4 separate regions of the Homo sapiens genome follow, and all the other regions are reported to be linked to region 1. Evidence: microRNA targets listed by miRTarBase, many of them from high-throughput screens and not tested one by one. Region 1 holds a microRNA gene; each other region holds the end of a gene's coding sequence. Distances are between the middles of the regions.
Evidence for each region. The annotated mature microRNA hsa-miR-329-3p reads AACACACCUGGUUAACCUCUUU and lies in region 1 at 1,294-1,315, shown strand. An mRNA with a match to its seed (bases 2 to 7 or 8) in the 3' UTR can be bound and repressed. Matches are read on the target gene's strand: a 7mer-m8 pairs with bases 2 to 8, a 7mer-A1 pairs with bases 2 to 7 and ends in A, and an 8mer does both.

Region 1 (3,152 bases):
GAAGAGAGCCAGGGGTCAGCGTCACTTCCTGGTATTTGAAGATGCGGTTGACCATGGTGTGTACGCTTTATTTGTGACGTAGGACACATGGTCTACTTCTTCTCAATATCACATCTCGCCTTGGAAGACTTCCAGGAGGTGATATCAGCTTTGCGGAAGAGCCACTGTCCTGGTGTCAGTACGGCTGCTGCTTGGTACTTGGAGAGAGGTGGTCCGTGGCGCGTTCGCTTTATTTATGGCGCACATTACACGGTCGACCTCTTTGCAGTATCTAATCCCGCCTTGCAAGCTTTCCTGGAGCTAACATCAACTGCGGGGGTGGGGGCCACTAGGTCTGCGCTCAGTGTGACCCAGCGGGGTTTGTGATGTGTTTGTCTTGTGTGTGACGATAACTCACGTGTGGCAGCCTTCTTCTCAGCACACTGCTCTGGCTTGGCAGCAGGGTTAACTTGCGGACAAGGAGCGTGGTGTCAGCACGTGCCTGGATACATGAGATGGTTGACCAGAGAGCACACGCTTTATTTGTGCCGTTTGTGACCTGGTCCACTAACCCTCAGTATCTAATGCCCCCTTGGAGAACTTCCTGGAAGAGGTGTCAACTTTTTGGGAAAGAGACAGTAAACTGGGGCCAGCTGCACTCTGTTAGACTCTGAAGAGAGCATCTGCGAGGCGTTTGCGACATGTATGCCAAATGTGGCTGAGTTGGACTGATTTTCACTCCGATCTCTTTCCTTGGAGGGCTTCCTAGATGTGGAGGCATCCAAGTTCAAGGGAAGGGGCATGCTGTCTATACCATCCCAAAGTCCTCCAGTGATCAGCTGACCTGAGTGTATGCACTTTAATTTACAACCAAGGTCGCCTGGCCCGTCACACCTCAGTCTCCACTGGGTCCTTAGCAGGACCTTTGGTGGAGTCAGCCTTGCTTTGGGGCATCTGTGCCTCTCTTGAGTAACTGAGAAAAGATGGCCCTGGAGGTTAACCCTAAACGCGATAGCTGCTGTGACCAGCCTTTTTATGGCATCACCACCTCTGGCTGTGATGTCAACTTCCAGACGTGATGTGGGGTCTGCTCCACTGGGGTACTTGGATAGATGGTTGGCAAGCAGCATGCATCCAACTCTTGGCTTCTTCCGGCAAATCAACTAACTAACGCTCAGTGTGCAATTCCATATTTAACAGGACTTCCAGCACTGAATGTCAAGTCTGGGGAAGAATCAGTGGTGTTCTTGTCAGTGTTAATCAGTGGTACCTGAAGAGAGGTTTTCTGGGTTTCTGTTTCTTTAATGAGGACGAAACACACCTGGTTAACCTCTTTTCCAGTATCAAATCCCATCTTGGAGGCCTTCTGGTCCAGACCTCAGCTTCAGGGAAGGGCGTTACTCTCAGCTCCAGTCCACTGGACAGAAATCTATGGTTAACCACGAAGCCTGTGCTGTATTATTTTGACTGATGTCATCTGTTCTACTAACCCCAGTGTCCAATCCGTATTTAACAGGACTTCCAGGACTGAATGTCAAGTTTGGGGAAGGAATCAGTGGTGTTCTTGTCAGTGTTACTTGGTGGTACCTGAAGAGAGGTTTTCTGGGTTTCTGTTTCTTTATTGAGGACGAAACACACCTGGTTAACCTCTTTTCCAGTATCAAATCCCATCTTGGAGGCCTTCTGGTCCAGACCTCAGCTTCAGGGAAGGGGTGCTGTGGACATAAATAAGGAGACACGAGCAAATGGCTGATCACTAAGCGTGCCCCATGTTTCTGAATTTTGCCACCGATTGCGCTAACCCTCAATGTCTTATCCCTTCTTAGGAGGACTTTTCAATGTGATGGCAGCCTGGGGGAAGACAGTGTCACCACGACAGTGTCACGGAACATGCAGGTGAGTTGTCTGTGGTTGCCTTCGTTGTGCTCCCAACGGATCGTGTGTGTAATTCAGGCTCTTTCGGCATCTGACCCTGCTGTAGGGGGATGCCTCGTCCTTGCCACACTCAGTGATGGGCTTGAATGAGCCCAGCCCACAGCAGGGGAATGCCAGCATGCCCTGGACAGATAGTGCAGGTGTCCTGCACGCCTGCCCCTAGCCTGCAGTTTATTCTGAAAGGATGTCCTGGATATAATGACACCTTAGGGAAGAAAAGCTGATTCTGAGGTCAAGAGGAGACCTTGGGGGCCCTGGAATTGGCCCAGGTTGAGACCTGTTTATTTCTCACAGGAATTGTGGAGTTGACTTCCTTTAAATCTGGAGGAATCCTTGATGTCATGCCAGCTTGAAGGGAGGGCATTGTCACCAGCCCTGATCCAGGGGAAGGGAGTGGATGGCCCACCACGGGGCATGTACCTCCCCAGGAACACACCTGCTCCACTGACCAGCACATCTGACCTACCCTCAGGGTTGTGTTTCTGCAGATGGTCCTTCTTTGGGGTGCTCAAGGAGAGGTTTCCTTTGGCATATCTGTTTCTTTTATATAAATCATTTCTGTGGACCACTCTTCAGTATCAAACACCAGTTTGGAAGGCTTCCGGATAAGACAGTTGTCAGGCCCAGGCCAGGGTGAGTGGGCCGAGATGGGTGCTTCCCCTGTTCTAAGCGTCCTGTCTGGCAGTAATGCTTGGTGCCCGATCCTTTCCAGGAGGACTTCCTGGAGGTGATGCCAGCCTCTGGGGAAGGAAAAGGCTCCCTGCCAGCTCTAAAGCCAAGGCACAGAAGTAGGTTTTGCTGGTGCTGCATTTGTTTTGATGGCACTTAGCTGTGACTGTGGGTCCTCGGCTCATCTGTGGCATTTGGGGATGGGACTGTGAGGGAGGAGGGCCTCAGGTTCTGGAGAAGGGCCAGGTATTTCCATGTCAACCCTGCTTTTTATAACCAGAGAGAACATATGAGGTAGCACCAATGACCTCCGCCACCAATCCTTCCTATTAGCTGATACCCAAACACCGTTCCTTCCAGCCGAAAAGAGCCCTCATAAAGAGAGGGCAGAGAGAGTGTGTCAAGGCCATGTGACAGCAGGCAGTATGCTGTTGCCTCCGGGGTATCCAGGGTAGGCGGCTGCTGGGTCCATGTAGATTGGGTGCTCTGCTGGCTACGGAGGGGTCAAAGGACAGGTGGCAAGGGTGCAGAGCCGCAGCCTGGCCCTGGGATTTTCTTCTCAGACCTCT
Region 2 (3,152 bases), not on the chromosome of region 1:
AGGGAGACAAAGATCTCCTGGGTGCAGCCTCCTCCACCACTGTGGTGAAGGGTGTTGGGCTGGAGGGTTGGCCGACCTCTCCTGAGAGCACGTTCCCCCTGCTGCTCCTGCTGCATGGCATCAACCTGGGTTTCAGTTACATTACCCAGGAGGATTTCCAAATCCAGAGGCAATGTGGCCTTCCATTTCCTGAGGTGCCTTGGTTGGCTCTGGATCAGTGGTGGGGACTCAAGAGACAGCCTCCCTGTGGCTTCCAGCCCCTCACATTCCCTTTGTCGCTTTCTCCTTCATGATGTGGTTTTACACAGAAAAACACTCTGGTAAGTAGAACAGTGTTCTTCTCTTGAGTCAGACGTCTGAAGCAGGAAGGTGAATAACCTTCCCAAGACCTTAGAGCTACAGAGAGAATCCTCAGCACAGGTAGGAGCACACAGGTAGGTGGGGTAAACGTGTACAGAGAGCCTGGCTTCTACTTGGAATTTTCCCCTCCCTTGGCCTTAAAAATCGGATTTCTCCCTTTTCCAGCTATGTTGATACAAGAGACAAACTATTTAGAAAGTAAAAGCCTCAACCGTTTATTTTGTGTTCAAAGTATAACCAAATGATTTTATTGCATTTACTGCTCCTGGGCATGCAGATGCATCTACACAGAAACAGCAGTTGTGGTTATAAAATCTTTTAACGAGTTTGGGGCAGAGGCTTTTTAATTATTTTTGAGACAGAGTCTCATTCTGTCACCTAGCTTGTGCAGTGGCATGATCTCGGCTTACTGCAACTTCTGCCTCCCAGACTCAAGCAATCCTCCCACCTCAGCCTCCAGAGTAGCTGGGACCGCAAACGTCAACACCACACCCAGCTAATTTTTTGCATTTTTGGTACAGACGGGGTTTTGCCATGTGGCCCAGGCTGGTGTCACTGAGCTAGGCAATCCACCCACCTTGGTTTCCCAAAGTGCTAGGATTACAGGTGTGAGCCACTGCACCCAGCCCAGAGTTTTCCTGATGTGAAAATTACGTGAGTGACAAGGAGCACCAGGAGCCTTGCCTGACTTACTGTCTGTTGGTAGGATGTGACATATGAATAATACAAAATACCCGTCTGGTTTGACTTGCAGATTAAATCACTGCTAGACTACAGCCTTGATGCCCTCTCTTGCTGACCCTAGCCAACATAACCAGTCTTCCAGGAACAATACCATGTTTTAAATTGCTTGAGGTTTCACTACCTGCTGTCACTCTCAGTCCGGAATCCCAGCAGGAGACACAGCTCCAGCTGGCCTGCCCAGCCCCCATCAGAAGGCAGGGAGGAAGGGGAATTTGTCAGCGTTTACGGCTATTGAGTATGATTCTTCCATGCAGAGGACACCTGCCCTAAATGCTGAAACTTGGGTCTGAACCCTGCCTTTGATGGAATTGTGAGCAAGCTCACTCAAGTTTGTATTGACTCATCTGTAAATTAGGAATGATATAGCATACCTCACGTTTATCTGGAGTCATGGGCTGAATGCTGTCCCTTTCAAATTCCGATGTTGAAGTCCCAACCTCTAGTACCTCAGAATGTGACCTTATTGGTAAACGGTTGCTGCGGATACAGATGAGGTTATACTGGAGTCGGTGGGATGGGCTCTAATCCGATATGACTGGTGTCCTTAAACAAAGGGAGGTTTGGAGACAGACACGCACACAGCAAGAGTGCCATGTGGAGATGAAGGCAGAGACTGGGTGACGCTTCCACACACCAAGGAATGGCAACTGCCAGCAAAGGCATGAAGCCGCTTCTCCCTCACAGCTCTCGGAAGGCACCAACTCTGAGGACACCCTGATCTTGGACGTGCACCTCCCAGAACTGTCAGGGAATACACTCCTGTTGTTCTAAGCCAGCCAGTGTTTGGACACACCAGCACTCCAAGCTAATGTATCTATCAAGTGTGTTGTCAGGCAAGGTTCTGTTCTGGAGCTTGGCTCACCCAGACAGGAGAACCCCTCACTGGGGGCAGAGCTCCACATTCCTAGACAGGACAGATTGGAAGAAGGGACTTAAGTGCCTTTTAAACGATGACAACTCCGCTTCCAACCCACAAGCATTTACCAAGGATCTTTGGGGTATAAAGACATTATGGGGTAGGTGTGCAACACAAATTAAAATGTAAGCTTTGTTTTTGGTGAGCTCCAGATCCCTAGTGATTGGCCCCCAGGAAAATCAACAGGTATGACGACTGTTTCCAAACCTCAAGAAGGAGCTCTGCAGACCCCTGCCACAGAGGCCAGCCCAAAAGGGCTGCCTGATCATCTTGGATCTGCGGGGTGCTCCTGCCTACCTGATGGCCACGAATCTGGGGCTCAGACATGACATGTCTGGCTCAGTGTGCCTGGCCCTGCTCCCCACTGAGCCCATCAGTCCCACCCTGCCTTCTTCTTTCCTCTAGTCCAACATCCGCCAGCAGCTTCTCAGTGGAAGTGCAGGCATCCTGGAGCTTCAGGAGCAGATCCTAGCGTTCAGACAGGGAAGGAGGGGAGGGAGTATACTGAGGTTTGGCTGGTGACCAGGGTGCCGCCCTGACGGGGGATAGCCCAGTTTTACTCCCCGAGCTTGGGGAGCATGGGCCAAGGGTCTCTAAGACGCAGAACACCTGGCATGTCCAACCTGGTGATGGCACATCCCCCCCGTTTTTTGGCACAGCAGAAACAGAACACTCACTTGGCCACTCTTTCATTACCTGGGGGAGGGAGAGTGCTCCCATGGCACCACCCGAACGCTCACTACCTGAGAGCAAGGACAGGAGGGAGGTGTGCTCTCTATCCTGGGGAAGGTATGTCCTGGGTGGGGGCGCTGATCAGTACCAAGGTGAGGGGGCAGCACCAGCCAGGGTGAGGCCGCCCCAGGCGGAGAGGCTCAGTAGGAGTTCAGAGCCTGCTTGGAACGGCGCTTCATGTGCAGGCGCTCGTGGCGGAGGAGGTCATAGTTCTGCGTGAAGCTCTTGACGCAGTACCGGCACTGGAAGGGCCGGGCTTTGTCCTTCAGGTGAAAGTGGCTGCGGTGCCGAGCCAGGTGGTCGTGCCGCTGGAAGGCCTTCCCACACTCACAGCACTGGAAGCTCAGTTTGGCCTTGCCGTTTTCCAGCGGCTCTTTGGGACCCTTGTCCGCGTCCTCGG
Region 3 (3,000 bases), 27 Mb from region 1:
CTCGGGAGTGAGACTCTGTTTAAAACAAACAAACAAACAAACAAAAAAAAACAGAATAGAAAAAATTTAAATGATCCACTAAAATGGCGTAATGTCTTAAACCGGAAGCACAGAGATAATCTATTCCACATAGGTCAAATATCTGATCCAAGAGGCATAAACCAAAGGCAGTTTTATCAGCTAAATTTGCAGCAGTAAAGGATAATTTAGGGAATGATTTGAGAGAATATCCTACATTTCTTCATACATCCCAACTGCCATTTTCTAATGGCATGGGTTCCATGAACAGGGATGCATAGAAGTCATTCAAAGATTTGTTGAATGATACTGAATATGAATTTTGCATGAAATGGACAGAGAAAAGTATCTTACATTTGTCTGAGAACTACCTGTAATTAAAAGTCATTGAGAAACAAGGAGAAAGAGAACCAGTTTCTATATTACAGAATTCAGAAAAAACAAACACCAAAACTCTAAGCCATTTTACAAATAAATTCAATATGAAATCACTTACTTCCTATTATATTCACTTCCAGGGTTACTTTTAGAAAACATATCCATATCAACATGGCTTCAAGCTTGCCTACTGAAGGAAGTGCAAACTTTAAGAAGATCATCTTCCCTCTCAGTTTATGGAACTTAAAACATCACCAAGGAGAATGAAGGCTCATTGCCTATGGTTCATAAAAGAAATGTCCAAAGGCTTTGAATGCATAAACCAGCTAGAGTAGAATAAGGTTTCTTCCTATCAGATTGAAAAGAAGAGAGAAAAGAAAACTAAAAGGGTGTTAGACCAAGTTTTCCTCTTTTTTTTTTTTTTTTTTTTTTAAATATGGAGTCTCGCTCTATTGCCCAGGCTGGAGTGCAATGGCGCAATCTCGGCTCACTGCAACCTCCGCCTCCCGGGTTCAAATGATTCTCCTGCCTCAGCCTCCCGAGTAGTTGGGACTACAGGCGCCCACCACCAGGACTGGCTAATTTTTGTATTTTTAGTAGAGACGGGGTTTCACCATGTTGGTCAGGCTGGTCTTGAACTCCTGATCTCAGATGATCCGCCCGCCTCGGCCTCCCAAAGTGCTGGGATGACAGGCATGAGCCACCACGCCTGGCCTCTTGTTTGTATTTAGAGTTGATTGTCAAAGCAGTGGTCCCTTTTGATCAGAGTAACTTAGAAAAATCAAGTAATTCCTATGTAAATGATAGCTGAAATCTTCTGAAACCCAGGACTACTTATGCAATCACTTTTTAAAGATGATTCTTCCCTCTTTCACTGTGATTTTATGCAAGTAAAATCACACAAGTAGATGGGGAAACCAGAATCAACAGTCTCTGAGGGACTTTAGGCACAATTTGGCAGAGGGCCCCTGACTTCTTTTCTGCAATCTAATAGTGATCCAGCCATGGCCTCCTATGACCTCATCTGCTTACTGACTACAATGTCTTACATTTTCCTGAAGGATTTTTTGTTTACATGATAAATTCTAACCTCTGCATCTAACTATTGCTTTGCAATTTTGAGGTTAAATCACCTACACTGCTTTATGTAGGAGACAATCCTCAAACATATTGCCATTTGCCTGGGATCTCATAATGAAACATCTCCCTTCCCTCCACAACCACGTACATAATACATTTTAAGAGCTGTTTAACTTAGAACTTCTCAAAAAATATATTTTGAAATACTAAGTTTCATTATACCCTTACTTATAACCATGGTAGTCACTTTTCCCAACAATGAGGGTCACCAGACCAAATAATTAGGGTAAATTTTGACATACATCAATGGCCAGCATTTAGTCTAGGAATTCAAATATAACTAATGCTTTAAACACATAAGGAACTATAAAACCAAAATGTGTGCTTAAGGCGAGGTCCACATGAGTAACATTGCCACATTATCAGTCAAAGAAATGATCATGACAGTCATTTTAACCACTAACTGAGATCACAGAATGACTGTACACAATGACTCAAGTGGCCATGCATATAAAAACAACCTAAATTCCAGTTGACAATGTGCACATTTTTGGAAAAACAAATAAGTATAATATAGACTAGAAGGTCTCTGAGATACTACTTTTTCCTTTTTTCACCATATCTTTTCCAATGGAACTTTGGAGTCTTGGTTCCGGACCTGCTGTATTTCTAAGAGGAACTCTTCCCATCACCATGCTGCCTTCTGAGCTAAAGGCATGTGCTTCTGAATTGTACAGAGACAGACCTTCAGGAAAAATGTTCTGAATTTTCAAATGTACATCTTTTAAAATGTCTAACCTAAAAAAAATGAACAAACTGAAAAAAACATTTGTTCCTTTGTTATTAAAAATGACTGGTCTACAAAGGTTTTGTTTTAGTAGATGGGGCTACACAGTACGTAACTGAGACTGAAGACAAAAATCGAAAATTTGTGGTTTCTAAAAAGAGAAATAGGATATATAAGGTTGGCATTACCAGTTTTGGGGAGAAACACTGAATAAGTTAAAGGAAAAAAAAAGATGAGAATGAGTGATCTGTTTTATCTTAAGAAACTTTTGTCCCATACAGAATCTTTAAAATAGACAATTATATAAAATTTATCTATTGTTCTTATGACATTTAAATAAGTTAACACACAGTGGAAAGCGTGGCATTAGTTGTCTTCTTCCTCATCCCCTTTAATTACTGGAGTACCTAAAATGAAAAAGAAAATTATTACTGGTTATTCTCAAAAAATTGCTAAAATTCTAGATGAAAATATTTTCCTGGCCGGGCACGGTGGCTCACGCCTGTAATCCCAGCACTTTGGGAGGCTGAGGCGGGTGGATCACCTGAGGTCAGGAGTTCAAGACCATCCTGGCCAACATGGTGAAACCCCGTCTCTATAAAAATACAAAAATTAGCTGGGCATGGTGGCGGGCGGTTGTAATCCCAGTTACTTGGGAGGCTGAGGCAGGAGAATCGCTTGAACCCGGGAGGCAGAGGTTGCAGTGAGCCAAGATTATACCATTGCACTCCAGCCTG
Region 4 (3,150 bases), not on the chromosome of region 1:
CAGCTGACCAATATTTCTTGCTCTGTTTCCTCAGATCAATGTAACCACTGTGCGGGAATATCTGCCAGAAGGAGACTTTTCAATAATGACAGAGATGCTCAAAAAATTTTTGAGTTTTATGAATCTCACTGTAAGTAGCTTTTATTACAGCTTATATGATTTTAAATTTATAATACATTGACAGTAGACATAAAAATACTATGGCCATAGTAAGTGGGAGCAAAAAGGGATTTTCTTTTAATTTTAATAATCGTGTTCTATTTCTTCAAGGTAATCATTGCATGTTATGGCAAATAACTTTATCAAACCCACAATTTAATCTCGGTGTACTTTGATTTGTAGTGTTCAGTTTAGTAAATCTAGAGGTAAACTTTTATTTATACTTCTTAAAATCTGTTAAATATTAACTGTTACTTCCTTTCCCCTTCACCCTGCTTTCAGTGTGCTGTTGGAACAACTGGCCAGAAATCTATCTCTAGAGTGATTGAATATTTGGAACATTGCTAGCTGCTTTACCTTTGCTTCAGGTGCTCGGTAATGCTGGAGCTATCCTTAGACAAAGAAAAGTCAAGTCATGAAAGAAGTCCTTGAAGATATACCAAGAACATTCATCAGTATCATTCGTGTTTGGATTTTTAAGGCCACCTGATTTCTTCGTCATGCATTCGGCATTTGCTAAATGACAGTTACTACATCAATCTGCAACTATCAAAAATGAGGGGAAAAGGTTCAGGCTGTTAACAATTCCATGCAGTATTTAAATACATTTACTTTGGCAGAGTTTATACCCTCCCCTTGTTTTCTTGCTTTATTCTGGGCAAGTTTGAAGGGGAAAATTTGTGCTGCTGTTAGTGCAACTGCTGTGTATGTTGAGCCACTGTTGTCATGCCAGCCAGGTGCAAAGGCAGCTTAGCTACTGAGGTAGCGAATGTTCTGAGGACATTCTAGACAACAGCTTAGTTCCTTTTTCAGGCTCATTTGCTTTTGCTTTTTTGTTGAATGATTCCAATCGTAAATAAAGCTTTTAATAATTTTGTGAATTTTTTGGTTGTTGTTCCCTGAACTACTGTCTATATTTAAAATTAGATGGAATCCAAAGATACACGGGATTAATAGTATATTTTTTTATTCTTGATTAGGTTTGGGTTATTGAACTATTTTTTACTTTTGAGACCACAACCATATTCAATATCATACCATAATGTGTCATAGCTATAGGCACAAGAAAAACAACAGTTTGAGAGAATATTATATAAGATGATGTGCCCTGTTAAAAGGAGGAGGCAAAATAGTCAAACCCAGGGTAGTTTACACTTAATGCTAGGGAGGCTCTTAAAACATTATTAGATTTTGAGGAAAGACTCTCTAGATATATTTTCTAATGTTCAGTACAATAAATATAAGGAAGCTAAAACACCAATGTGGAATTCCTGTTTCCAGATAACATGTATATTCTTCTATAGAGTGACAGGATCAATTGCATAAGCGCAAAGCCTTAAATTGCTGGTTTAGAGAAGACCCTTTTTTCATTCAGATTCTTTGTTCGTAGAGCAGTTATTTGAAAAACAGTTATGGAACACAAAACATTTTATAGATTTAATATCATAACATTGCAAATTTTTCTTGTATTATTCACACCACTGGTTATACTTTTTTTTTTCCTTTTTTATTGATTGGGCCTGAATACAGGCTTTCTAGAGATCTTTTTCATTAATACTTTTAAATACCTTTCAGGTAGTTACATCATGTTTCTTCATTGGATTTGTAAAACTTGAAGCCATAAAAATATTAGTTTGGTGTGTATTGGGGAAAATAGCTAAAAGTCTAATTTTTACCCATTTAGACTTTGTTATTTCCTTGTATAAAGTGACAAATCGGGGCTCTTGTATCAGTGCCAGCTGTAATGTTTTTAAATGCAGTGGCTGCCTTCTATTGTCTTCCTATTTTTGATAATGCAGATTGTTGGGAAATCTGTAAGGAAGTAACTGATTCCAGGCAAATTGTTTTCTTCCTTCTACCCACCCCAACCCCTACCCATCACCTTTTAAGAACATAGTACGCCAGTGTAACGTGGGAACCATTGAGATTGTATTTGCCCTGAGTATTAAAGCTAGCTTAGCAAAATACTTTTAAAAACATATTGGTAAATGATACCCGTAAAATTAAATTAGTTATATTTTATTTTAAAATGCAAAATACATTGATATTTATTAATCATTGGATTTAGGGAAAGGGACAGATTTTTGGTGAACCTGACTTGTGGCAGATGGTAAGGAATATTATAAAACATTTGGATGAGAACAATCAGGGCGAACTGCATTTTTCTGTTACACTGGTAATCATTTGAAAATTGATTTACCTCAGTGTTTAACAGTTTTTTGTTTTGTTTTGTTTTTTAAATAATAACTAATTGTCGAGCACTGATAGAGATGCAGATTTTGGTGGGGGGAGGTGGTGGGGGAGATAATCACTTCACCAACTGCAGTGCATTTGTGTGTTTTTAACCCTCAGAGAACTCTGCATTTTAGGGTACTTGAGGCTGACTTAACTAAAAGTTTTAAAGTAACCTTTTTTCCATTGTAAATATTTCTGTAAATACTACCAATTGGAAATTAGAACAGTAGAGTACTTTTCTGAATCCAATCCTATTTTTATTTTATACAGTATTTCTCAGCTGTGATCTTTGGAGCAAAAGCCAACGGCAGGAAAAAATAGTTTGTACCAGTTTCATGAAGTATGTCTTTGGGTTTTTGTAAATAATTTTAACTCAAATAAAATTGCTACTTTCAATACACATGTTGTCTTTAACATAAGTCTATTGGAGGACAGAAGTGTCACAAACTTTATATATAGCCGACTCTAATGGGAAATACACTATCACTTAACACATTTAACCAGTTTTTGTTAAATATTTTATTATTTCTCCATGTTTTTAATAATACTCATCTGAATATAATGTGAACTCAACAACTCAGGCCAATTAGGGACTGGATTTTCAGTTAGGCCCTTGGCATACTTAACTGTTTTGATTTAGGTTATTTTTTGCTCCTATGAGTATGATCCAAGACATCTTTGCTTCTGAGGTTTTACACTGCTTTTTAGTTTTTCAGTTTTCTTCTTAATTGTCAGCCCTTAGGCATCCTGCATTTA

Region 2: the mRNA of ZNF496 is a reported target of hsa-miR-329-3p. Seed matches in the 3' UTR shown: 7mer-m8 at 1,892-1,898 and 7mer-m8 at 1,733-1,739.
Region 3: the mRNA of DNAL1 is a reported target of hsa-miR-329-3p. The part of its 3' UTR that is shown has no 7-base or 8-base seed match.
Region 4: the mRNA of WAPL is a reported target of hsa-miR-329-3p. Seed matches in the 3' UTR shown: 8mer at 1,796-1,803.

The regions. Positions count from the first base shown.
Region 1 is chr14:101,025,541-101,028,692 of GRCh38, forward strand. MIR329-1 (microRNA 329-1) reads left to right here and starts at 1,245; the gene lies at 1,245-1,324. LOC124903407 (mucin-2-like) reads left to right here. Exons shown (of 5, transcript XM_047432049.1): 5 at 1-3,152. It overlaps MIR1197 (microRNA 1197), which reads left to right and starts at 24; the gene lies at 24-111. It overlaps MIR323A (microRNA 323a), which reads left to right and starts at 192; the gene lies at 192-277. It also overlaps MIR758 and MIR329-2.
Region 2 is chr1:247,297,627-247,300,778 of GRCh38, forward strand. It overlaps ZNF496 (zinc finger protein 496), which reads right to left. Exons shown (of 10, transcript NM_032752.3): 10 at 1-3,152. The coding sequence ends at 2,893. Among named protein-coding and RNA genes, the nearest start is that of ZNF496, 33 kb to the right of the region's middle. RefSeq lists enhancers at 1,297-2,196, 2,197-3,095.
Region 3 is chr14:73,695,572-73,698,571 of GRCh38, reverse strand. DNAL1 (dynein axonemal light chain 1) reads right to left here. Exons shown (of 8, transcript NM_031427.4): 8 at 1-2,670. The coding sequence ends at 2,630. Among named protein-coding and RNA genes, the nearest start is that of PNMA1, 17 kb to the left of the region's middle. RefSeq lists an enhancer at 473-642.
Region 4 is chr10:86,434,900-86,438,049 of GRCh38, reverse strand. WAPL (WAPL cohesin release factor) reads left to right here. Exons shown (of 19, transcript NM_015045.5): 18 at 35-130; 19 at 442-2,794. The coding sequence ends at 507. Among named protein-coding and RNA genes, the nearest start is that of GRID1, 70 kb to the right of the region's middle. RefSeq lists a silencer at 1-38.